Linked DNA regions of Homo sapiens: region 1 is linked to region 2. The links come from fine-mapping of genetic effects on gene expression. A gene starts in region 2. The other region holds a variant in brackets. All regions are shown on one strand. Distances are between the middles of the regions.

Region 1 (2,911 bases), 26 kb before region 2:
AGCCTGTGCAACCTAGGGAGACCTCATCTCTACCAAAAAAAATTTAAAAATTGGCCAGGCGCAGTGGCTCACGCCTGTAACCCCAGCACTTTGGGAGGCCAAGGCGGGCAGATCACAAGTTCAGGAGATCGAGACCATCCTGGCTAACACGGTGAAACCCCGTCTCTACTAAAAAAATACAAAAAAATTAGCCGGGCATGGTGGCAGGCACCTGTAGTCCCAGCTACTCGGGAGGCTGAGGCAGGAGAATGGCGTGAACCTGGGAGGCGGAGCTTGCAGTGAGCTGAGATGGCGCCACTGCACTCCAGCCTGGGCAACAGAGTGAGACTCCATCTCAAAAAAAAAAAAAAATTAAAAATTAGCTGGGCATGGTGACATGCACCTGTGTTCCCAGCTACTCAGGGGGCAGAGCTTGGCGGATTGCTTGAGCCCAGGAGGTCGAGGCTGCAGTGAGCCAGGAGAGAAATGGAACATATTCTCTCTCACAGGCCTCACAAGAAATCAACACTACTGATACTACCAGCCTCCAGAACTGTGAGACAATACATTCCTGTTTTTTATGCCACCCAATTTATGGTACTTTTTTCCTGCAGCCTAGGAAATTAATACAAGAGGGAAGACAAAAATTGGGTAGGCAACCTGCAGTCTCTGACACATCTATTTAAAAAAATAGGGTTTATAATCATTCTGAGCAAACTATCGCAAGGACAGAACACTGCATGTTCTCACTCATAGGTGGGAATTGAACAGTGAGAACACTTGGACACAGGGTGGGGAACACCACACACCGGGGCCTGTCATGGGGTGGGGAGAGGGGGGAGGGATAGCATTAGGAGATATACCTAATGTAAATGACGAGTTAATGGGTGCAGCCCACCAACATGGCACATGTATACATATGTAACAAACCTGCACATTGTGCACGTGTACCCTAGAACTTAAAGTATAATAAAAAAATAATGTTTATATTTAGAGCAGATTTAGGGTCACAGAAAAATGGAACAGAAACCATCAAGTTCCCACAGAGCCCCTGCCCATCCACACATACACACGGCCTCCCTCACTATGTACATTTATTACATTTGATAAACCTACATTGAGACATCATAATTATCCAGTACATAGCTAACATTCACTTGTGTGTGTGTGTGTGTGAGAGAGAGAGAGAAAGAGAGAGAGAGAGAGATTGACAGGGTCTCACTATGTCCCACAGGCTGGAGTGCAGTGGAACAATGTCAGCTCACTGCAACCTCTGCCTCCCGGGTTCAAGTGATTTTGCTGCCTCAGCCACCCAAGTAGCTGGGATTACAGGCGCCTGCCACCATGCCCGGCTAATTTTTGCATTTTTAGCAGAGACGGGGTTTCACCATGTTGGCCAGGCTGGTCTCAAACTCCCAACCTCAAGTGATCTGCCCGCCTGGGCCTCCCAAAGTGCTGG[T/G]ATTACAGGCGTGAGCCACTGCATCTGGCCGAGAATTCTTATCTCAGGCAAGGTTAGTCTTTCTAATTATGACACAAAATGAGAGTCATGGAAAAGACTGCTAAGTTTCACTACATTAAAATTATTTTCATGCCAAAAACCATTAGAAGCAATGCCATTTGGCAAAAAACAAACTAGGAAAAAAAAATAAAACATCACTAACTTACCCAAAATATTCAGTATCCCTACAAAAGGCAAAAAAACAAAACCTGACAGAATGTGAACAGACAATTCAACAGAAAACAAAATGTAAACATTAAATATAAAAAGATGCTCAACCCTACTCATAAGATAAATGCCAGTTAAAACCACAGTGAGATATCATTTTTCACCTATTAATGTTCCTTCCAAATGTCAAAACCTTTGATAATAGACTGTGTTGTGAGTGTGTGAGGAATCAGGCATGCTTTTTATTACTAGTGCAACCTCTGAGGAGGGCGATTAGAAACCCAAATTGCAAACACAGATACCTTTCATCTAGCAATGTCACTTCTAGGAATTTTCCCTTTGTATATACTCACACATTTGAGAAATTACTTATGTAAAATGATATCCATTTTGGTAATGCTTGTAATAGCAAGACTGGAAACAACCTAAATGTTCATCAGTAGAGGGCTATCTAAATAATGGCCAACTAAAGGAATTCCATGAGACCTAAAAGAGAATGATGAAGCTTACATATTTTAACATGAATTCATCTCCAGGGTATACTGTTATGTGAAGAAACAGCAAATTCAGGGGCCAGGTGTGGTGGCTCGCACCTGTAATCCCAGCGTGGGAACTGGGGTGGGAGGCCAAGGTGAATGGATCACTTGAGCCCAGGAGTTCCAGAACAGCCTGGGTAAGATGGCAAAACCGTGGCTCTACAAAAAGTACAAAAAATTAGCTGGGTGTTGTGGCGTGCACCTGTAGTCCCAGCTACTTGGTAGGCTGAGGTAGGAAGATTGCTTTAGCACAGGAGGTGGAGGTTGCAGTGAGCTGAGATCACACCACTGCACTCCAGCCTAGGTTGCAGATTGAGACCCTGTCTCAAAACAAAAACAGAAACAAAAAAAATTCATGGTACTGGTTCCTTGTGATAAGAACTGAGGAGCTGGGAGAAAGAGTGGGAAGGAGAATTCACCATTTACTCTTTTGTGAATGGTTCAAGTATTGAACCATGTGAATGTATTTCCTATACAAAAATTTAACTTAAAAAAAGAAGTCCCATTACTGATCACATTTTATTGAAACATGGAACTCTCCATTTGCAGCAAGAAAAGATTAATAATGAGGAGCTGAGAAGTAATAAAATGGCTCCATATACTCTGTTAAGTTTATGGAATGAATAACCAAAACAAAAGTTGAATTGTTTTTGTAATTTAAAGAATGTTCTGGGACTCAAAAATATACAGAATCTTCTATAATTAAACTACTCAGAACAAGAAAAATACC
Region 2 (2,911 bases):
GGCATTTAGTGGTGGCTTGCTATGAAGGTGTGTCTAAGGTTTATACCATCAAGAGGCCTAAGCCTTGTCATTGATCCTCATTCCACTGTTAGATTCCAACCCCTCAGAACTTCAAACCTGCCCTGGGGCCTATACTACCTTCTCCACTATTACTGTCACTCAGTGTCCCCAGTCCCAGGGACCAAAAATAACGACTTAAAGGGAATAAAGAATTGGGCGTGTGTCTGAGGTGGCATCATGAGAAATGCTTTTGGCAACCTGAGTAGGAACTATCACATATAGAATGTTTCTGCAGGAAAATAGATTTTTCTAAAATCAGTATCATAAAGAAACTACTACAGCAAAACTGTATGCAAGAGAATACCTAAGTACTTCCTCAAAGGCAATAGGCTTTACTTCCACAACATCTAAGGCACTGCTCGAATGAATGTTTAATAACTATTACTGATTAAATGAATTTTCCATTCTCGCGCAATTTCACTGTTTTTCCTCCGTTCATATTTGACTGACTCCCAGCACACGACACACACAGTAAATGGGTCGGTAGATAAGCCCTACACTCCTGAACTCAAAGTGTGGTCCACGGACTAGCTGCACCTGCATCATCAGCGAGATTATTAAATCATAGCCTGCATTTTCAAAAACAAGATCCCCAGGTAAATCGCATGCACAATGAAGTCTGAGAAACGCTGCCTTAGAAGTTTGCAGTATTGCAATCCTTCCAATCCCCAACTCCAATCTCATCAGCGTGAGAAAAAAATGGAGCGCACACACACCGTGCACACGGCCAGCGACCAGCCCACGGTGGGGTTGGGACACCTGTCACCCTGTCCTCCCCAACAGTTCCCCATCCGCTCACCTTGATGCGCTCCCCATCAATCTCCACCGCTCGTTCTCGGAAATCCACCCCTATCGTGGCCTCGGTGCGGTCGGGGAAGCGGCCAGCGCAGAAGCGGTAGGTCAGGCATGTCTTGCCCACATTGGAGTCGCCGATCACGATTATCTTGAAGATGCGGGAGCGGGCAGGAGGCAAAAACCCTGAGGCCCCTGACACTGCCCCGCTGGACGAAAAGCTTGCCTCGAGCGACGACTCCATCTCCTCAGCCATTCCCCCGACCCGCCCCAAACTGAGGCGGAGGAAAGGAGACACAGAAAGGCTGAGAGATTACGCCACCGCAAGAGCGCGCGCCCAGCCGGCCAGTTCGGCTGCGCAACTTCCCAGGAGCCACCGCCCACCAGCCCCGAGCGCGCCTGCGCACCTTCCCGCCCCGCCCTTGCCCGCACAGGTGTGGCACCCGCCCGCCCCGCCGCACGGAGCCGCCTGCCCGCGGCCACACGCCAGGCGTCACTCGGGCTGGCGCCGGTCTACCTAGGCAGGCGTGGGACCTGTCGGGGGCTTCACGGCAGCGCGGAAGGCCAGCCTGCAGAGAGGCTGGGCCCAGCGCCCTGACTGACCCAGCCCCGCCACGTCCAAGGTTCCCGCCCTCTGGAGGAAGCCGCGCAATCACTCCGGGGGCGGGGAGAGACAGACAACTGAGAGGAAGGAGGTACCACGGGCACTCTCTCGCGAGAGGGCCGCAGAGCCGCCTTTGACGGGGGCGTGTACCTGGAGAGCAACGGTAAGGACGGAGCCGACGGCTCCGGCGTCGGGTCGGTTCCGGCATCGACGTATCGTTTGGTCGCCCCAGAGAGGAGACAGGTTTCTTCAGCTTGCCGCTGAGGATGTGGCATCGGCTGCGCTCACCGCCGCCGCCTCTGTGAACTGCGGGAGTTGGGACAGCGGCCAGGGCTAGATGGGTGGGACGCGAGTCCTCGCCGAAAGCTTGCCCTGTGCGGGGCGCACTTGGAGGCGAGCTCTGGGCCGTGGCGAGTTTTGCAGCCTAAGGTCTTGGCAGGCGCATTGCTGTGGGCTGCCGGAGAGCAGGCTGGAGTTCGAGACCGCCCACCGGAGAGCAGGCGAGAGTTCGAGGCCTAGGTACAGCGCATTTCGCTAGGCATCCCCAAGAATATCCGCGTGATCCTTGTGGCCAGAGTTTGTTGAGCTAATATCCCCAGCCCAAACAGTAGAGCACATCACATGTCGGCCACCTGGGAGCGTTGAACCTGGTAGTTACTAGGCGCCCCTGGTGGAAATAAAACTCATTATGCCCTAGTTATGTCTTAGTGCCTGGGTGACGATGATGTAGCGGTTAAAGATTAACTGAGCGCACTTAGAGGTTGTCTTTGTCTACCTAAGGAAAATATCAATAGATTAAACCCCCAACCTTAAAGAATCTCCGTGAATTTTTCTGAGGAAACGTGCAATATTGTCATACAAAAGGCCCCAAATATGCAAACATTGCTTTTTGTTAAAAGTTTGTTTTGTTTTGCAGTGACATCTGTTTGAGCAGATGAATATGCCATTGGGAAAGTCAAGGACTGTCGGAGAGGAGGACATGGCAGACCTTAACTAAAGTGAGGGGGACAGTAGAGCACTAAAAGTTCTAGGAAAGGAGATGAACTGCTTATTCCATCAGATGAAAATATAGTCAGAACAGATGAGTAGTAGAACTTAAACATGCCCGGAGTTGCCAGGAATTTGCAAAAGCCTTGATATAATTCCTGTTGCTGTAGAAAGACTTTCTACAGTCACTAATATATCAAGTTATGTTCACTAGAAAAAAAGTTTACTTAGTTTATAGAAATGGGCTGAAAAATCCTAATTACTTATCTGTGAGGTTATTTTCATGAAGGTTAATCATCCAGAAACTATTAGAGAGCCTCGGAATATATTTCTTCTAATCTGCTCTACCTATCCCATTCAAAGGAGGGAATCTGAAGATTTAAGGACAAAGAGCAGTTGAAAACTCAGAGCTGTGGTTAATGGGAGAATTTCAAGGATGGTGAAAAAAACTAACATCATTGCATCCCT

Which allele goes with the higher level. Positions count from the first base shown, and alleles are read on the strand shown. Sizes are in standard deviations (SD) of each study's normalised expression.
For the expression in tibial nerve of the gene that starts at base 1,263 in region 2, T is the high allele of the variant in region 1 and G is the other (small effect, 0.34 SD a copy in GTEx).

Evidence for each region.
Region 1: its variant is fine-mapped to the expression of RAB33B-AS1 in tibial nerve (GTEx, PIP 0.90).

The regions. Positions count from the first base shown.
Region 1 is chr4:139,477,974-139,480,884 of GRCh38, reverse strand. No RefSeq gene overlaps it. Among named protein-coding and RNA genes, the nearest start is that of RAB33B, 25 kb to the right of the region's middle. The variant T/G (reference allele first, on the strand shown) is at 1,439.
Region 2 is chr4:139,452,393-139,455,303 of GRCh38, reverse strand. RAB33B-AS1 (RAB33B antisense RNA 1) reads left to right here and starts at 1,263. Exons shown (of 1, transcript NR_159964.1): 1 at 1,263-2,911. RAB33B (RAB33B, member RAS oncogene family) reads right to left here and starts at 1,183. Exons shown (of 2, transcript NM_031296.3): 1 at 860-1,183. The coding sequence starts at 1,108. RefSeq lists enhancers at 886-935, 1,556-1,895 and a silencer at 1,156-1,485.